Linked DNA regions of Homo sapiens: all the other regions are reported to be linked to region 1. Evidence: microRNA targets listed by miRTarBase, many of them from high-throughput screens and not tested one by one. Region 1 holds a microRNA gene; each other region holds the end of a gene's coding sequence. Distances are between the middles of the regions.
Evidence for each region. The annotated mature microRNA hsa-miR-8485 reads CACACACACACACACACGUAU and lies in region 1 at 2,689-2,709, shown strand. An mRNA with a match to its seed (bases 2 to 7 or 8) in the 3' UTR can be bound and repressed. Matches are read on the target gene's strand: a 7mer-m8 pairs with bases 2 to 8, a 7mer-A1 pairs with bases 2 to 7 and ends in A, and an 8mer does both.

Region 1 (4,034 bases):
GTACTTCAAACATGGAGAAATGAGAAAGAGAGAAACAGACAGACATTTCATAAACAATGAATAGCAAAAGCATGGATATCAGGAAAGAGAAAACCTTCTTTGAGGGCAATTTTAACTGGAGAAGAAAGTTCTACTGGATGTTTTCTAGGGAATAATGGAGACTAGTTGATGAGATTCTGTTTCAGTGGTTTTCACATTTTTGGATTCAAGATCCCTTTTTACTTTTTAAATGTATTGAAAACCTCTGAGAAGTTTATGTTTGTTGTATAGGTTATGTATATGTATTAGTGTTTACTCTATTGAGAATTGACTGAGAAAACATTTATATATTTATTAATTCATTTTAAAATAGCCACCACATTGCATGTTGCATGTTAAAATAAATTGTGTACTTTTATGAAAAATAATTATATTCCAACACTAAGATAATTTTGTGAGAAGAGTGACTTATTTTACATTATTGACAATCTCTTTGATGTTTGGCTTAAGAGAGCTAGATTCTCACAACTACTTCTGCAGGCAATCTTTTGTGATAGCATATATCCTTTGGCCTCTAGACAGCACCGTTGTATATTTGTGAGATGATGAAAAAGATTTTGGCCCTTGGCCCTCCCGAAAGTCTCAGGGACTACCAAATGTCCTTGGACAACATTTGAGGACTTCTGTCTTATACTGTCAACGAATATCTACTGAGCACCTACTAAGTGCCAGCACTGCTGTACGGGTGGGAAGTACAGGACAAACAAGACCATGACCCTGCCCGCACAATGTTTACTTTCTCATGAGAGAAGGAGGATTCTAAAGTGAAACAACTAAGATGATTTCAGATAATGATAGGTGTTATGAAGAAAATTAGACTGGTATTAGGATGAACTGTAGTGTAGATGGGGTTGTGTTGTTATTTAGAGCCAGATTAACGAAATTGGCTCAAGGCAGTGACTTTAAGTGAGAGTAGCAGGAAGTGCAGCCGTGTGAAGAGCTATGGAGAGCTGTCTACTTTGGGGGAACAGCTGGTACAAAGCACCAAGGTAAATTGAAGAGTTAAAGGAACAAAAGTGCCAACCTGGAGGCAGAGAAAAGAAAGAAAATGAAACAAAGATGTGGGCAGAACCTATTTTATTTGAGGCCTTGTAGACCATGGCAACCCAGGATTTGAATTATATTCTAAATATTATTTGAGGATTTGAAGAAAAGAATGATGTAATCTAATTCACATCTTCAAAACATCACCATAGTTGAGAAGTGAAGCATGGGCTACAGAAGAGCAAGGAAGGGAGAGAGGAGACCTTTCAGGGGAGTGTCGCGTTAGGTTCGGATGAAACCACAGAGGAAGTAACAGGCAGTCATTACGTTCAAGATGAAGGTACAACTGACAAAACCAATACATTAATTTTCCTTTCAGTCTGATTAAAATCCATTTCTCTATCTGACCATTTCTCTAACTTGTCAAGTTTCACTTTGAAAGATGCTCCAGTATTTCAAGGTCTTAACACTCTTTCCAACTTTTGTCACACACAAATTTAATGAGCATCCTCTCTCTTAGACATCATTGTAGCATATTAATCATATACTGTCCTAACTTACCTTATCAGCTTGTGACAATGAGTCTTTTCTAAAAAAACTTTTCCTGTATATTCAAAATGAAGACTAATGAAGTTTATTTATACAAGCTAAAAATATAACACTCAGAATTACGTGTGCAAAATATTCCCTGTAAAGTATATTTTATTTCTCTTTTTCACTTCCCATCTGCCCCTTCCAAATACATCTTTGTCTTCTGGTTGTTGAGAGGTTGCAGGGTATTCATATTGTCTTATTGCTGGTACAGTAGGACGTTTGTGTATGACCCAGCTTTGTTTGTTAAGGTGCTTGAAGTAAGTAATATGCTCTCAATGAGACAAAAGCAACAATTTGGAAACAAAAGTGGAAATTAACAATGCCACTGGTTTCTGTTTAAAGAATTTATGTATCAGGCTTTCATTGTGAATAAACTCAGTAAGCAGCTACTCAAATGATGTGATTACATGGTCTAGGAATATACTCTTGGTCTCCAAAATGACTTCTCTATGACTCCTGGTAGTATATGAAACTTAGTAATTAACACTTTCTACCATTTAAATCAAATAAATATGTTTATCTCTGTGAAAATTCAGGTATTCTTAAGAGAGCCTCACTGATCCTCACCCGAAAATTCATGCTTTGGTTTTAATGGGTGTGCTTGCTGGTTTCTCTACAGAGAGCTGCTTTGACAGTTGCAAGATAAAAGAAGAAATAGTTGCTCAGAACCACAAAGAAAATAAATAGACATTGGAAGAAGAGGCATAAACAGTTTTCTCCGCCTGCTTCACCCCATTGCCTTGGCTTTTCTTGTCTTTCTTCTACCTTATCACGACCTTCTTTAGCAAACTATGATTTAGCTTAGAGGAGAAGCATGTTTAAAGAGTTGTAAGACAGGTTTTCTTTTCTAACTCTCCATCAGAATATTACTTACTTCTGAGACTGTTTTTCTTATTTATAAGAAAGGAGATTTATAACACTGTCAGCTATCTGTGTGAAGAATTATGTACATTTCAAATTCTCATTTTTTCATATGTATAGAACATTTTATGGTCTTCAGTTCTGTGATATACGTGTGTGTGTGTGTGTATATAGCATATGTGTATACATACACACACACACACACACACACACACACACACACACACGTATATGTACTGTCTTTTAAAATTTCCATAGTCGACTGGGTGTGGTGGCTCTTGCCTGTAATCCTAGCACTTTCGGAGGCTGAGGCGGATGGATCACCTGAGGTCAGGAGTTCAAGACCAGCCTGCCCAACATGGTGAAACCCCATCTCTGCTAAAAATACAAAAATTAGCCAAGCATGGTGGTGGGCGCCTGTAATCCCAGCTGCTTGGGAGGCTGAGACAGAAGAATCGCTTGAAGCTGGAGGGCAGAGGTTGCAGTGAGCCAAGATTGTGCCACTGCACTCCAGCCTGAGTGAAAGAGCGAAGCTCCATCTCAAAAAAAAAAAAAAAAAAATCAGAGTCACTCTGGTTAGGCTTATTTCCCTAATCCTTTGGAATATTAGTAAAACTGAGGCTCAAAAAACTAATGCACAAAGTCATATGGATAAAAAGCGATATCTAACCATTTATCTTCAACTCTTCCTACTATAGCACGTCGACATTTATTACCGTGTTCTAGATAAAAGCCTTCTTAGAACTATTAACATATTTCACATATTTTAATCTCTCAAATTTTGTTTCTCGTTTTGTACAATAATTTGTGCTCCTAGAGGAAAGCAAAGACTTAGTCTAATCTCTTTGTCAAATGGAAATAGACTAATGTTACTTACTATGAATAAGAGACTATATCTCTGTCCCTAGCAAGATGTCTCTGGCTAAGGGATTACCCATAGTTAATAGAACCCAGGATCTATGAGGCAGGGCTACCTGGAGCATATGACATAAGGTACACCACTTTATGTTATATGATGCACCTTATCTGAACTTGATAGCTTATATCCTTGAAATTATTTAGCAAAGCTTGATGCTGGGCAAGATCTTTAATTCATGTGAGTCTGATTTGACAATCTAATCCTCACATTTGTCGGTAAATAATACAATTAAAATATTCTGAAGGAATCTCAAGTACAAATACCAAAGATAAGATGCCTTCCCCCCACCGCCACCCCCTTACCCAGGTTGAAATGTTACTGATAAAATATGTTGGTAAATAGTCTCCCTACTGCACTGGTGAAATCAAAGCCACCCTTAAGCAGTGAAGATGGCTAATTTAATTTCAGTAGTTATAAATCAAAATTAAGCCTAGGAAACTGGACCCATAAATGGCTGCAGAGAATCCAGCTGTGTTTATTCTAAAGGCACTCCCAGATCAATTTGCATGGAGGTGATTTGGCTATGAGATAAGGGAACTGTCTTTCAGCCCCATCAGTTAGAACAGTCACCAGGATCTAAAGTACCCAATCAAGAGAATACCCCGCAATTAATTTTTTATAAGCCAAGGAAAGACTA
Region 2 (3,887 bases), not on the chromosome of region 1:
CTTCCTGCTGCCTGCCTTGTCTCTGTCTCCCTTCTCCTTTCTACTCCACAGTCAGCCTCAAGTCCTTCTGCTCTGGGTTACACACACATCCTCTTTCCATCTTTCTTTGTCTATTCATTGTTTTTTTTTTTTTTTTTGAGACACAGCCTTGCTCTTGTTGCCCAGGCTAGAGTGCAGTGGCGCGATCTTGGCTTACTGCAAGCTCCGCCTCCTGGGTTCATGCCATTCTCCTGCCTCAGCCTCCTGAGTAGCTGGGACCACAGGCACCTGCCACCACGCCTGGCTAATTTTTTGTATTTTTAGTAGAGACAGGGTTTCACCGTGTTAGCCAGGATGGTCTCGATCTCCTGACCTCGTGATCCGCCCGCCTTGGCCTCCCAAAGTGCTGGGATTACAGGCGTGAGCCACCGTGCCCAGCTGTTTTCTTTCTACCCTTTCTTTTTTCTATTTTTCCTATGATTCTAGCATGTCTAATAATTCTATTTTTCTTTTTAGTATTCCAATTTTTCTTTTTGTCTCCTCCCTCTTTATCCTACAAGCTGTTTCAGTAGGTTTTGTAGTTTTAGCTCTTACATTTAGGTCTTTGATTCATCGTGAGTTGATTTTTTGTATGTGGTGTGAGGCAGAAGTCCAAACCCATTCTTTTGCATGGAATATTCACTTGTCCCAGAACCATTTGTTGAAAAGACTGCTCTTTCCCCACTGGATGGTCCTGGCACCACTGTCAAAAATCAATTGACCACGGATATATGTTTTATTTCTGGACTCTCGCCTCTATTCCACTGATCTATGTGTCTATTCTTATGCCACTACCACACTGTGTAGATTATCGTAGCTTTGTGGTCAATCTTGAAATCAGGAAGTGTGAGTCCTCTTTGTTTTTTCTCTAGATTGTTTTGACTATTCTGGGTTCCTTGCATTTCCATGTGAATTTTAAGATTAGCTTGTCAATTTCTGCAAAAAAGGCAGCTGGGTTAGTTGGTTTTTATGTGTATTTATTAAAAAAAGCAATTACCCGATTAGGCTGACAGAATGATTAGGCTGACCATTAAAAGGACTGGCAACTTTATCCTCAGAGTTTAGAGGTAAGTTTGTAAGAATTCAGGATGTTTGTCTAAGATTGCTTGATACTAGGGCAACAAGACTGAGAGCAGAGGGCACTAAAAAGACTGTCTAGGGGTTAGACATCAATTGTGTTTAAGTCTGAGATCTGCCCCTTAGGTACCATATGACCCTGCACAAGTCATCGACCCCTCCACACTCCAGTGTGTCATCTGTAATGAGGATGGGGCACTCCCTTCCACACTGCAGCACTGCGGGAACCGAGACAATGCCATCGCAGAGGACCTGCAGGGGACAGGCTACTTCACTCACTCCTCTCCTTCCCACTCTTCAGAGAACAAGGACTTGTGCTACTGTATTCTCACAGCACTCACTGGCCTGGGAACCAGCTGTGGGAGCCCTATGGGCCTGGTCATCAACTCTCAACTGCTTGTGTGCAGCTGTAGGAACCCTCTGAGGTGTGGCAGGTAGAGGATGGGGTGGGTGCCCAGGCACACTGCTGACTTTCTGGAGCCCTGCCCACCCCCAACCCTCTCCTTATTACTAATGACACGGGAACCCACCTGCTCCACTGTGCAGCCCCAAGTCTGATCCAAGTCAGGCTCCTGAATGTGAGGAAGCCGAGCATGGGGGCGACAGGGAGGTGGGATGCACTGAAAAGCTCTAACCATTGCCGCTAAGGCACATCAGTCTCTGACCAGGTCCAGCAGCCTCCACGTACGTCCCAGTCCTTCAACACACATTTACTGAATGCCCACTGCACACAGGAGTGTAGGTAATAGCATGGTATGACAGTAAAATTAAGTAAACAACTCCCACTTCTACCTTTCTGGACTACGAAGAGCTCCTCCTGGTCTTCCTTATCATTTCCTATGTGATTACTTCCGGGTCCTCTTGGAGAACAGAGCATTTTGCCTCCCATGCAGTTTTCCACTGCTTGACAGGGAGAAATTCCTCGTGACCTATGGTCCATCGGCTGATCTGGAAGCTGAACCCTTGGAATAAAGACACCTGCATGCTCGGATTTGCAAAAGGAATGGAAAAGAACCCTTAAATATGAGTAAGTCGTGGGAGTAGATATGAAACAGGGTTATAAGCACATCTCAGTGTCTAATTTTACAGAATAAATACTTCTATTCTATCGCAGCTCACATGTAAATCCAGGTAGGTATGTCCCTATCCCACTTAGAATAAAATGAACAGCCAAGTGGCCAAAGTTTCCATAACTTTCCTCCTTGCTGACAAATCCAACCCGAAGTCTGTGCCTCCTAGGGAAAGGACAGGACAAAGGTACAATTCAGTTCCTAAAGTTATTTCTCCCTCTGGGAGAGAAAGGCACTGTCAAAGTACAAACCCAAGTCAGCGTGCTTTGAAAGATCATGTCACTTGTTTGTAATAGGAAATCATGTCATCCAGAGTTTTGAAAGTAACTGTGGGGGCTTGTGGTGGGTTGTCGGGGGCAGGAGTGGGTGACGTATGTTCAGGGCTAGGTCCGTGGCTCTGGTCAGGGCACTGCCCTGGGTCACTCTGTGCTGGCCCAGGTCTGCTCCATGCCTGGCTGCTGGAAAAACCAGTTCTCTTCTGACCCACAAAGTAATCTGACGGCGGGGCAAACTCAGGATCTCTCTCAGCCCGGAGATCTGACTGCCTCTTCGACCAGTATCCAAAGGAAAATTCTGGTAAAAATAAGAAAGAAAGTTATTAGAACTGATTAACGAATCAGTTGAATTTATTGTTACTATTATCTAATTGTATCATATATTTCTTAAAAGCCACCACAAATTATCCAAAGAATAAGAATGGCAACAGCAAAACTATATTACAAGGTATAAGTAATACCTACAACGAGTATAAAAGACCAGGCTAAGAAAAGGGAGTGACTATCTCTAGATGGGGAAATACAGAAAAAGAGAAATACAGACAAATTATCTGCTTGACATGACATTGTAGGTATTTCATACCAAAATACAAATTTTGTCCGTTATTGAGTTTTGGAAGACACAAAAGGGAACTGTCCAACCTTGTCTGGTATTTCATCTCTATTTCTAACAGTGGCTCTTGCATTTCTCTTACTTTAGCTTTGGATCTTATCAGCTCAGACAGCATGGGCTAATGTTCTACTGAAATGATCTTTTTCAAAGAGGCATAAACCATAGTCTTCCAGAGAGGCTGCTGTGGACACTCTGGAGAATTTACAGAAAAAATGTCCAGGGAAATTCCCCAATGGAACCATGTGTGAATCCAGGTTAGTACACTGGCATGTAGACCATTTTCAACTGAACATAAAAGAGGCTGCTAAAAACAGAGCATATGAGAACACCAAACTTTCATAATACTTTAAAGGCAGGTCCTGAGAAATGGCATTCCAAAGCTGTAAAACCACACAAGGCAGCACGAAGTTAAAACTTACCCCAAGTGCTTCTAGAAAAAAAACCATTTTCCATTCACTGGAGAGTTCTTACACCTCAGAGCCCACCTCCCTTACCTTTTCCGCGGTCCCACTCCCGGATGTGTGGCACTCCAGGCTTGGTGTCCTTCCTCTCCTGGACAATGACTTCTACTTTGCTACTCTGGGCAGCAGGACGTGGGGTTGGCACAGCCTCTGGCTCCGGTGGCAAAGGCCCAATAACATCTCCATCTATTTTTTGTAAAAGAATAAGACACTGTTATAAAAAAGCCTAAAGCTATTTTTAAAAATACAGAACATGCTAATCCTGAAAGTAAAAGTAACCATCAGTATTTATGAAGTACCTAACATGTCCCAGGCAGTGGATTAAGTCTTTTGTATACAACAGGTCATTTAATTCTTGTAACAATCCTAATAA
Region 3 (4,034 bases), not on the chromosome of region 1:
GTGTATGATCACCATCCTGGACTACACGTGGAGAAGAAAAGATGACCAGCGACAGAGGGCTGGGTAGAGCCAGCAAAGGAGACCTCAAAAGGATGGCAGACAGGGTGAGGTAAGGTCAGGAATGTGTGCTGTGGCATTACTGAAACCTAAAGAGAAAAAAATCGTGTTTCAGGAAGAAATCAACTTATAAATGCTGAGGAAGAAAGGCTAGTAGTGATTATTATTTCTCATTACCTAAGCATTTGAGTCATTTCTGTTATTGTCTGAGAAGCTGGAGACACAAAAATAGGATTTGTAGGTAGCTTAGGGCCTAGTCAGAACCTCTATTTTCTTAACTCTAAAGTGGAATTAGAACTTTCATAGGTGTTTGAGGATGAACTGGTTAATACAGGTAAAGGCTCATGTTCTTCCATCTGCAGAAAGCATAGTGAGGTACATCAGGATTCTAAGATGTTTAATATGTATTTTTAAATAGGTTTGGTTAGAACTGAAATGTCTGCTATACTTTTATTATCAAATATGTTGATCCTTTCCTCCTGTTTTGATGTGAAGTCAGTTTTGTTGACTGCCTCTTCTTATCCCCAGGGGTGACCAGTCCCGGAAGAGAGCTGGGGATGAGTTGGCTTATAGTAAGTAATGATGTTCCTTCCCATCTTGATGGTTCTGTGATGTAAAGCAGCCATATTAATGCACTGTGATAACAGTGCATTGAATTTGATGATACCCATGTTGTTCTCATAAGGCACTGCTTGTAATCAAGGTCAGGATGCTTTGCATGCTGTGGCAGCTCCAGCTGGTAGCGATGGTTCTCAGGGCATTGGAAAGAGGCCACCAGGTTCTTTAGTTTCTACTGGGATGACATCGTAGCCCAGTCCCAGTTCCTTAGGTTCTCAGTCCCCTTTTACTTCCCTCCACCCCACATGGTTTTGAGGATTTTTTTTAAGCCTTTTTTGGGGAGTTGGGAGAGGAGTGAGAAATGTGTGTTGAATAAACAGATTCCTGCTGTTATCAAATGCTGTCTGCTCTTCATACTTTTTCCTATTCTGATGTTTTTTCAGATAGCTCGTCAGCATGTGCAAGTTCCAGGGGGTACAGATAGTGAATGTATTGAATATGCTTTCCTTCCTGAAAAGAGGACACACTGGAGCTGCAGAGACTGTATTCAGAGCACAGTGGGGGCTGCACACACTCAGGAGCTCTGTCACAAAGCTGTTCATGGAAGAGGATGTTGGACTTCTTACTTGGTTTGTAATTTTAAAACAAAAACTAAAAAAAAAAAAAACGTTGCTGCTAGACTTGGGGGTGATTTTGAAATGGGACAATCTTTTAATGAGTTTATCTACAGATTCTGTGAGGAAAAAGCATCTCAGAAAGTGACCATTTCTAAGTGAAATCTGACAGCCAAAATCAGCAGCTTCCTCCAAAAATATAAGAGCAGAAGAATTTTTTTTTTAAGCACTTGTTTTGTTCATTTGTGGACTTGGCATTTTGGTGTATTGGTTTCACATGTCAGGATCTCTTTTGCTTTAAAACCAAGCAGATCATTACAGTACAGTATTTTTCACCCACAACCAAAACAACCCCTTTTAAAAGAGTTGGTCTTTGTTTAGCATTAGAAAGTCTTGTTAAAGGAAAATGCTAACTCTGCTTTTGCTAGAACTTTCCCCCATCAGTTCACAACTTTCTTCTACTCTGTGCCTTGAGCTTTGTGCACTTTGCAACTGTGTGACCATGTTGTCAAACTCCTCCTGGAGAAGTGTATGGTATCTAAACTCACCCACCAAGATGGCAGGTGTGGCCCTGTAGCAGGATGCTAATTAAGTGGGAAAATAGAAACCTTTTGCACATGGGTCGGATTTTCCCCTGGTTCACCAGAGCATATTCATATTAATGTTGGGGACCAACTCTCCTAGAGCATTTCCATTCCCTGTGCCACTTAACACGATGTCTGTCACCAGCTGCTATAGTATTGGCAGTACTCTAGTTTAGGGATGGGCGGTACTTTAGCACGGAAGCTTCCCTTAGTATTATTGAGAGCTACTTCCTGCGATGCTCTAGGAAGCAGATACAGTTATTAAGTCCAAATACACAGTGGTGTGGGGTTCCTGATCACTTCATTTTAAATGAATGAGATAATTACTTAAAAAAAGTCTGTCATTTGAACATTATATTTGAGTGTGATAGGGAAGAAGTAGCACTGCTGTCCTAAGGCTCCCTTCCAGCTGTGGCAAAGCTATATTTCTGTTTCTCCACATCCACAGTGCTTTTTAGTCCATCATAAAAGTTTCTGAAGCTTATTCTAGCTGTTGTTGAAAGCCCAAGAAAAATAGATGTGGCAAGAGAAAAATACTTTTCTTCTCAATTTTGCTTGAATCTTAATTGAGCATAGGCTTCTCTACTAGGCAACATCAGACTAATAGTATTTACCTCTTCAGAGAACTTGAGGGGAAAAGAAACATCCCAGGGATGCTGTCGCATGTCTGCTCTGCAGGTTCTTCATACAGCTGCCTCTGCCAATTCAGTTTATTTTTTGGGGGGAGTGGTGTGGGTGGGAGAGTTAGAAGTGGGATATTGGGAGCAAGTAAGTCACCCAATAATTGAAGTCCTTGATTTGTAAAACTGTTATACAGAGAAGTAAAGATAAAGGTTGTCAGATTTATTTTTTAAAGTACTTAACCAGAGTTCGTGGATTTTGTGGACTTTAATTGGACTCAATTCACTCTGTGAGCATCCTGGATTGCATCGATGAACACTGAATTACTGTAAGAACATAGACAGGCTCTCACTATGACCTGGACAGTTTAAGTTGCTACACTGGTAACATTCTAGTATCAAGGAGAATTCCATTCATCATGACATTCACATTTTACTTTTCTCAATGGAATGCTTGCTTCAGGCTTACCAATCACACCTAGAACTGAAGTCTGAGTGAGTGGTATTAATAATTTTTCTGAAAGGAATAAAATTGGAATGTTTCTAAATGTGGAGAAATTCTTCAGTATCCTAATAATATACCCAAATGCTTTTTCTGGGAGAGAGCATTCTTTTACAAAAGAACTTTCCCTATAAAAGCATCACAGTATAATGTGAATTGGCATTAAAATCTTTGGATGCTTTTGCATTATTAAGTTCATGGAGAAATATATTCTTTTTACTATGTATGTATTAATAAAAAGTGGGCAAAGTAAAGTTTGCAAAATTTAGTTTCTCTAAATTTTTGCACAGTGACTGCAGCTGGCTATGGGTCAGCTCTTAATACAACAAAACCTTGACTGGAAGTCACTATAGAAAGGTTGTACATAGTCTCCCAGTCTACATGTCCTGGCTGTTAATCATCTTGGCCCCTTGAGGCACATCACAGTTTGAAGGACCTGTTTAAGTTGAAATAGACTTTGCTTATTTATTGGGATTCTAAAAAATTCTGAGTGAGTTTGCAGTATGAGAGGAAATAAGATTTCCTCCTCCTTCCTCTCATTTTATATTGACTGTTTGCCAGAAACTGTTTTCTTCTGTTTTCTTATATTTTGTTTTTGAGATGGAGTCTCACTCTCTCACCCAGGCTGGAGTGCAGTGGTGCAATCTCAGCTCACTGCAACCTCTGCCTCCTGGGTTCAAGTGATTCTCCTGCCTCGGCCTCCTGAGTAGCTGGAATTACAGGCACGTGCCACTACGCCCGGCTACTTTTTGTATTTTGTTTTTAGTAGAGACGGGGTTTCACCATGTTGGTCAGGCTGGTCTTGAACTCCTGACCTCAAGTGATCCACCCACCTCGGCCTCCCAAAGTGCTGGGATTATAGGTGTGAGCCACTGCACCTGGCCTTTTTTTTTTTTTTTTTTGTATTCTTGCCAGTACAGTATATGGTTTTTCTACCCCAATTACATACTGGGTTTTGTACCACATCACTAAAGGCCCAAATCATTGAAGATACAAAACCGTACATGCAGGCTGGTTGTCTGGTTAGTCAATGGCTGATTTGCTTCAACTGTCTAGTATGTATGTGCAGCCTGAAACTGGCTCCTTAAAAGGAAAGCCG
Region 4 (3,000 bases), 12 Mb from region 1:
TCACAAATCCTGGCCTCAAGTGATCGGCCCGCCTAGGCCTCCCAAAGTGCTGGGATTACAGGCGTGAGCCACCGCGCCCAGCTGGCTTCTTCCTTTTCAAAGGCCTCCCTCATCTTGTCAGTCATTTCCTTGCTGACTTCAGTCTGTTCATATTCCCCTTCTATTTGCTTTCTGAAGACATCCAGGGTTTGAACAGGAGAGTCTTAGCCACTAGGAGAAAGGTGATGTGTGCTAAATTTTGCTTTCAGGATCATGGAACTTTGAAGCCGTGAGGGAGGAACTTTCTGTTCCCCTGAAGTTTCTGAACTGCTTCTGCAAGTGTGGTCTGGGAACGGTAACATCATTATCTGGGAGTCTGTTGGAAATGCAAATTCCTGGGTCCCAACTAGAACTACTGAATCAGAATCTGTTGGGAGGAGGGTCCAGCAATCTGTTTTGAAAAGCCCTGCAGCTGATTCTGATGCTTGCCAACATGCAGGAAGCACTGGACTATACCATCTTGTTATTAGACAACTATGCAGGAAAATAGCTGTGTTATCAGACTGTATTCAAAGGCCCTGAAACCTAAATATTTGCTGATTCTGATGCTTGCTAAAGTGCAAGAAGCACTGGGCTATACCATCTTGTTATTAGACAACTATGCAGGAAAATAGCTATGTTATCAGGGCCTGTATTCAAAGGCCCTGAAGCTTAAATATTTTAAAATATTTCTTACAGCTGGACATGGCAGCTCACACCTATATTCCCAGCACTTTGGGAGGCCAAGGTGGAAGGATCACTTGAACCCAGGAGTTGAAGACAAGCCTGGGCAACATATCAAGACCCTCTTTTAAAAAAAAAAAAAAAAAAAAAAAGCCAGGCACGGAGGCTCTCATGCCTATAATCCCAGCACTTTGGGAGGCCACGGCAGGCAGATCATGAGGTCAGGAGTTCAAGACCAGCCTGGTCAACATGGTGAAACCCTGTCTCTACTAAAAATACAAACATTAGCTGGGCATGGTGCTATGTGCCTGGTAATCCCAGCTACTGAGGGGGCTGAGGCAGGAGAATGGCTTGAACTCAGGAGGCAGAGGTTGCAGTGAGCCGAGATTGTGCCACTGCACTCCAGCCTGAGTGACAGAGCAAGACTCTGTCTCAAAAACAAACAAACAAACAAAAAACCCACAAAAAACAGCCGGGCACGGTGGCTCACACCTGTAATCCCAGAACTTTGGGAGGCCGAGGCGGGCGGATCACCTGAGGTCGGGAGTTTGAGACCAGCCTGACCAACATGGAAAAACCCCGTCTCTACTAAAAAAATACAAAATTAGTGGGGCGTGATGGTGCATGCCTGTAATACCAGCTACTCAGGAGGCTGAGGCAGGAGAATTGCTTGAACCTGGGAGGCAGAGGTTGTGGTAAGCCGAGATTGCACTATTACACTCCAGCCTGGGGAACAAGAGTGAAACTCCATCTCAAAAACCAAAACAAAAACTCCACAAAAAAACCAGAAAACTGTAATTCAATAGGTAATGCTGTGTTCCAATAATTTTTTTTTTTTTTTTTGAGACGGAGTCTCGCTCTGTCACCCAGGCTAGAGTGCAGTGGCGCGATCTCGGCTCACTGCAAGCTCTGCCTCCCGGGTTCATGCCATTCTCCTGCCTCAGCCTCCTGAGTAGCTGGGACTACAGGCACCTGCCACCACGCCCGGCTAATTTTTTTTGTATTTTTAGTAGAGAAGGGGTTTCACCGTGTTAGCCAGGATGGTCTCGATCTCCTGACCTCATGATCCACCTGCCTCGGCCTCCCAAAGTGCTGGGATTACAGGCGTGAGCCACCGCGCCCCACCAAGACACATCTTTTAAAAACAGACACATACAGTTAGTGAAGAGACTTAACAAGACCATGATCTTACCATAATATTTTATATTGAATCTAACATGTTACATTTTTTTCCAAATGCTTTTCTTGCCTAACAAAAATGGGGGTGTAACCCCATCACAAGAAAAGACCCATACAGGTGAAACCCCATCTCTACTAAAATACAAAAAATTAGCTGGGAGTGGTGGCGTGCACCTGTAGTCCCAGCTACTCGAGAGGCTGAGGCAGGGGAATCGGTTGAACCTGGGAGGCGGAGGTTGCACTGAGCTGAGATTGCGCCACTGCACTCAAACCTGGCAACAGAGCGAGACTCCATCTCAAAAAAAAAAGAAAAAAAGAAAAAAGAAGACCCATACAATTCTGATGTCCCTGTGCTAATTTTATGCATGGGATGCTATACTTGCCCTAGTTCATTAATTTCCCAAGGAAATTAGCACTTATAACCCACTCCTCTGATTTTACCAAAACAACAAAGAATTATACACACACACACATACACACACACAGTCATGTACATTTACATTTAAAACATTTTATGAGGGATAAAATATAGTCTTTTTCTATCAGTATGTTCACACTTCCTGGCCTCTCATTGGGAAGCTGTAAGATGTCCTTCAATAAGATCCTGAACACGCGACAGAATAATCTCATTAGAGCTGCTGCAATTTTCTGGACCATATGGTGGGTCTATAGTCAGGACCCCAGCCACACAGAGAGTCCTTGGAGCGTCTCCCTGTTCAGTGATGGGGATGTGGTTCTTCTCAAGCCATTTCTTTAGGCTGTTCTTTCTCTCTTCCAGATCCTCTGGGCTGTATGCTTTGCAGTCTCCAGACGTGAACAAATGCATCAGCTTCTCCCTCACTCTATGGTCCCCTTCATTCATAGTTTCAACAGTCTGCACAGCATGTCCCATAATTCCGGTCACAGACATGCTGCCATCTTCAAGGAAGTTCACAAGGACAATACTTTGGAGGAAAAGTAAGTTTAGAGGCATCATCAACCCAAGTAGGTCACTAAAATAATAGATGACACTCTACTCTGTTTGAAATTAATCCTGTCACCAATGAATGCTTCCATTTATTCAACAAACATTCACTAAGGATCCTAAATAGGTAAACTTTTTGCCCAGCCTACAGCCAA
Region 5 (4,034 bases), not on the chromosome of region 1:
TTGATCTCAGACTGCTGTGCTAGCAATCAGCGAGACTCCGTGGGCGTAGGACCCTCCGAGCCAGGTGCGGGCTATAATCTCCTGGTGCACCGTTTTTTAAGCCTGTCGGAAAAGCACAGTATTTGGGTGGGAGTGACCCGATTTTCCAGGTGACCCGTTTCTTTGACTAGGAAAGGGAACTCCCTGACCCCTTGTGCTTCCCGAGTGAGGCAATGCCTCGCCCTGCTTCGGCTCGCGCATGGTGCGCACACCCACTGACCTGCGCCCACTGTCTGGCACTCCCTAGTGAGATGAACCTGGTACCTCAGATGGAAATGCAGAAATCACCCGTCTTCTGTGTCGCTCAGGCTGGGAGCTGTAGACCAGAGCTGTTCGTATTTGGCCATCTTGGCTCCTCCCCCTTCTCTTTTGTTATGAGTGGTCAGGGATGTCCTCTCCGGGGTGGTGGTATTTGAGCAGACATATGGATAAAGTATGGAAGTGACACACAACTTTATTGAGAAAGACCATCTCAGGCAAATATAAAGTCTCTGAAGAGGAAGATGTGTGTGTATGTGTGTGTGTGTGAGTATAAATAATGTGTATATGTATGTATATTTTAATAACCACATAGACTAAAACTATCCAACTGAAACAACTTAGGTATACTTTGAGAAATATAAAATGAAATTGTAAGGTAGAGGTAGCATTAATAAACTATCTAGTATACCATTAAATAAGTTTGTGGTGATTGGTGATTCAACACCCGAATCATCTAGGTAAATCCTGAAAAACTCATATTTTATTAATTGCTTCTCCTTCCCCTTCTTTCCCCGTCCCCACTCCTTTCTCGTCTCTTTCCCCCCCTCTCCTTTTCTCCCATCTTTCACTTCTAATTTCAGTGAAATTGGAGCGATTTGAAATTCCAATCAAGGTTCGATTAAGCCCAGAGCCATGGACCCCTGAAACTGGTTTGGTAACTGATGCTTTCAAACTGAAAAGGAAGGAGCTGAGGAACCATTACCTCAAAGACATTGAACGAATGTATGGGGGCAAATAAAATGTTGTTGTCTTATTGACAGTTGTGCAGGAGGTAGCCTGGTGGTTTTCAACCTCTAGAATTTTAAGCCTTTGTTGAACTGTTAGAATGTAAGGTATATCATTCTAAAGATAGAGTAAAAAGAAAACAAAACCAAAAGTTATTAAAATTGTTGTCCGGTTTACTTTAACTTAGTTTTGCATAGTTCTAGTGCAGCTGAAATTGAAAAGTTATTTCCCTTTAGCTGTGTTATTATAGAGCAGAAATTCTGTTTTTAAAAATTAGCCTAAGATATACTTGTTTTTGTAAAGAAAAATATTTAATGTTGAACAAAATAAATTGGAGTTGGAGTAGAATGTAGTTTGAGGAAATTTGCAGCTTCCAATGCCTCTTGTCTTCCTATTTCAGAAGTTTAAATATTAAGCATGACAGAAAATATGTATTAACACTACTCAAAGCAAAAGTGCTGCAGGGCTTTAAAATTCTCTTCCAACCATTTATCTTGAAGGAAAAATTCAATAGTAATATAATACACAAAATCAAATAATACCTTAGAAGGTATTAAGATTATAATTGTTGCATAGGTTAGATATAGAGTCATTGTAATGTTGTGAATAATTACAGTGCCTAAAATAAGAATAGAACAACATATACAACACCAAAAAATATCTAGTAATATATTTAAAGGGAAATTGAGCTGCTTTTTTTGAAACTTTGAGATCTAAAAATAACTGTAATTATTTGAATGACTAAGAGGAAAGTACATTTTTTGAAATGCTGAAAATTGCCTTTCTGTGTTTATTCAAACTGAAAAGCTGAGACCAAGAGCAAGGAAGGTAAAAAGTTAACAGGCAAACATTTTCTCTTAGAAAAGGTGATAAAATCATAAGTATTTGGAATTAGAACCCTTGCACAGCACTGAACCTGGGAAAGAGATTTAAACTCTGAATTTATCTTTGATAACAGGGATTGATTTTAAAATGTACATGTATTAAATTACATTTGTAATTTAAGGTCTGTTTGCTGTTGCTGATTTTATTCTTGATCAGTAGTTTGCATTTCAGAAAGCCTTTCATTTTGCTTTAATTTTAGCAAAGCGGGTTATAATGAATGACTTCCCCAATATCTTGCTTGAACTTACAGGTGATTAACTTGGATGAGTTTTGGGAAGTTAAAGGGAAGAAAACACTGTTATCATTTTTTCCTGTTTGGGAAGAGCTTAGAAACTGGAAATACTAGATTTGGGAGAAGGGCAGAGTTACTTGATAAGGGACTGATGTTTGTGCAGTAACTTGGGAGTGTGGTTTCTTTTTGAATCTTTAATTAAAACCTGGGATTATATATCCCTGATAAATATTCACACTTGAACCATAGTTACTGTAAAATGCAAAAAATCTTAATACTGTTATTCTTTGCACTTTTTCTTAATCATTTTTTATATATATGCATATATATATGTGTGTGTGTGTGTTGCTTATGTTGTTTTGTACAGATGTGGGCCACCATTGCAACAAAATACATTCTTTTTGCTCTAAAATATTTATGAAGAAAATACTTAAATGTTATGTATATGGTGGTAATAAGGGAAAAATCAAGTATTATAAACAAGAATGAAGGTTTTTGTAAAGATTTCTGTTCAGCGTTTTGCAAGGTAAAATTTTAGGCAAGTTTTCCCTGAAGTTATGTGTATGTGAGTATTCTCATTCTTCCCAACTTGCCTTTGAAGAGTGAAATACCATTATTATCAAGTAGACTACTGTTCAGCTTTTATTCCTGCCCTGCTGTTTATCCCTTAAGAATGAGTTTCTTAGACTTTTCCAATATGTGATTTTTTTTCCCATTTAGAATGGTGATTTTAAATGTGTGAGTGCATGTACTATCTTATCTCAGATATTTGCACCCCCAATCTGCCCCCAACTCCCAAAAGCTAGAACACTGCCAACTGATCTGTTATAGGTCCTTTAGAAACACATAATTAACACTTAAGGTTGGGTGCTGCTAATTCTTTGCAAAAATCCAAATATTGTTAAGGGACCAGGGAGATGCCACTACCCCTTGATTTTCCATCTAAAAATATACATGTTTATGTAAACAAATCTTTCCATATCCATAGTGACTTTTCAAGTATTTAAGCCTAAAGATTTTGATCTCACATTTTTATACCTGTTTAAATTGCTCACAGTTATTACATACACATCAGCCATCAACTAAAGTTGTACTTTAAAAATTTACTACAATATGTACATTTCTAAGTCAAACACTTGTGACTTTTGCTTTAATTCCATGAATGTTCCTGCCTCCTTGATATTTGTATTTATTCTTTTTTTCTCTAGAGTAGAGGTATAATTGTGTGATATTTCAGAAATACAGATAAATGATTCAAAAAGTCACAGTTAAGGAGAATCATGTTTCTTTGATCATGAATAACTGATTAGTAAGTCTTGCCTATATTTTCCTGATAGCATATGACAAATGTTTCTAAGGTAACAAGATGAGAACAGATAAAGATTGTGTGGTGTTTTGGATTTGGAGAGAAATATTTTAATTTTTAAATGCAGTTACAAATTATAATGTATTCATATTTGTACTTTCTGTTAAAATGCATGATTGCAGAATTGTTTAGATTTTGTGTTTATTCTTGATGAAAAGCTTTGTTTGTTCTTGTTTTTAAGTTTGCACTCAAATCTTAAGAAATAAATCCACCCATGTTATCAAGCCAATTTGTACTTCATTATGCATTGAGATAAAATCTCCAAGTTTGAAGATTATTAACCAAACTTTTAAACACATATTTTTAAAGTACTCATCTCCAGGTTTATGGAATTGCATTAAGCAGTTAAACCGGCTTGTATAGTCCCATCCATTAGTTCAGAGTATTTGAATCCCAAACTGTTACTTTGGTCCAGTCAATAGAGTAAAACCCCTTTGTAACACTGATACTTTGGGACAAAACATGGATTATCAGTGGGCGCTACCAAATTATAACTGCTACTTTTAGGCTAATTAATATTTTAGA

Region 2: the mRNA of CCDC174 is a reported target of hsa-miR-8485. Seed matches in the 3' UTR shown: 7mer-m8 at 1,798-1,804.
Region 3: the mRNA of CACUL1 is a reported target of hsa-miR-8485. The part of its 3' UTR that is shown has no 7-base or 8-base seed match.
Region 4: the mRNA of GEMIN6 is a reported target of hsa-miR-8485. Seed matches in the 3' UTR shown: 7mer-m8 at 2,360-2,366, 7mer-m8 at 2,358-2,364, 8mer at 2,355-2,362, 7mer-m8 at 2,348-2,354, 7mer-m8 at 2,346-2,352, 7mer-m8 at 2,344-2,350 and 1 more.
Region 5: the mRNA of ACSL4 is a reported target of hsa-miR-8485. Seed matches in the 3' UTR shown: 7mer-m8 at 2,475-2,481, 7mer-m8 at 2,477-2,483, 7mer-m8 at 2,479-2,485, 7mer-m8 at 2,481-2,487 and 7mer-m8 at 2,483-2,489.

What each region holds. Positions count from the first base shown.
Region 1 is chr2:50,694,847-50,698,880 of GRCh38, reverse strand. MIR8485 (microRNA 8485) reads left to right here and starts at 2,619; the gene lies at 2,619-2,709. The region is part of intron 5 of NRXN1 (neurexin 1); the gene reads left to right.
Region 2 is chr3:14,669,747-14,673,633 of GRCh38, reverse strand. CCDC174 (coiled-coil domain containing 174) reads right to left here. Exons shown (of 11, transcript NM_016474.5): 10 at 3,548-3,700; 11 at 979-2,738. The coding sequence ends at 2,440. Among named protein-coding and RNA genes, the nearest start is that of C3orf20, 3.5 kb to the left of the region's middle. RefSeq lists enhancers at 1,307-1,516, 1,451-2,650.
Region 3 is chr10:118,683,193-118,687,226 of GRCh38, reverse strand. It overlaps CACUL1 (CDK2 associated cullin domain 1), which reads left to right. Exons shown (of 9, transcript NM_153810.5): 8 at 586-629; 9 at 1,059-4,034. The coding sequence ends at 1,099. Among named protein-coding and RNA genes, the nearest start is that of CACUL1, 70 kb to the left of the region's middle.
Region 4 is chr2:38,781,342-38,784,341 of GRCh38, reverse strand. It overlaps GEMIN6 (gem nuclear organelle associated protein 6), which reads right to left. Exons shown (of 3, transcript NM_024775.10): 3 at 1-2,825. The coding sequence ends at 2,450. Among named protein-coding and RNA genes, the nearest start is that of GEMIN6, 4.6 kb to the right of the region's middle.
Region 5 is chrX:109,641,034-109,645,067 of GRCh38, reverse strand. ACSL4 (acyl-CoA synthetase long chain family member 4) reads left to right here. Exons shown (of 16, transcript NM_001318510.2): 16 at 882-3,733. The coding sequence ends at 1,039. Among named protein-coding and RNA genes, the nearest start is that of KCNE5, 18 kb to the right of the region's middle.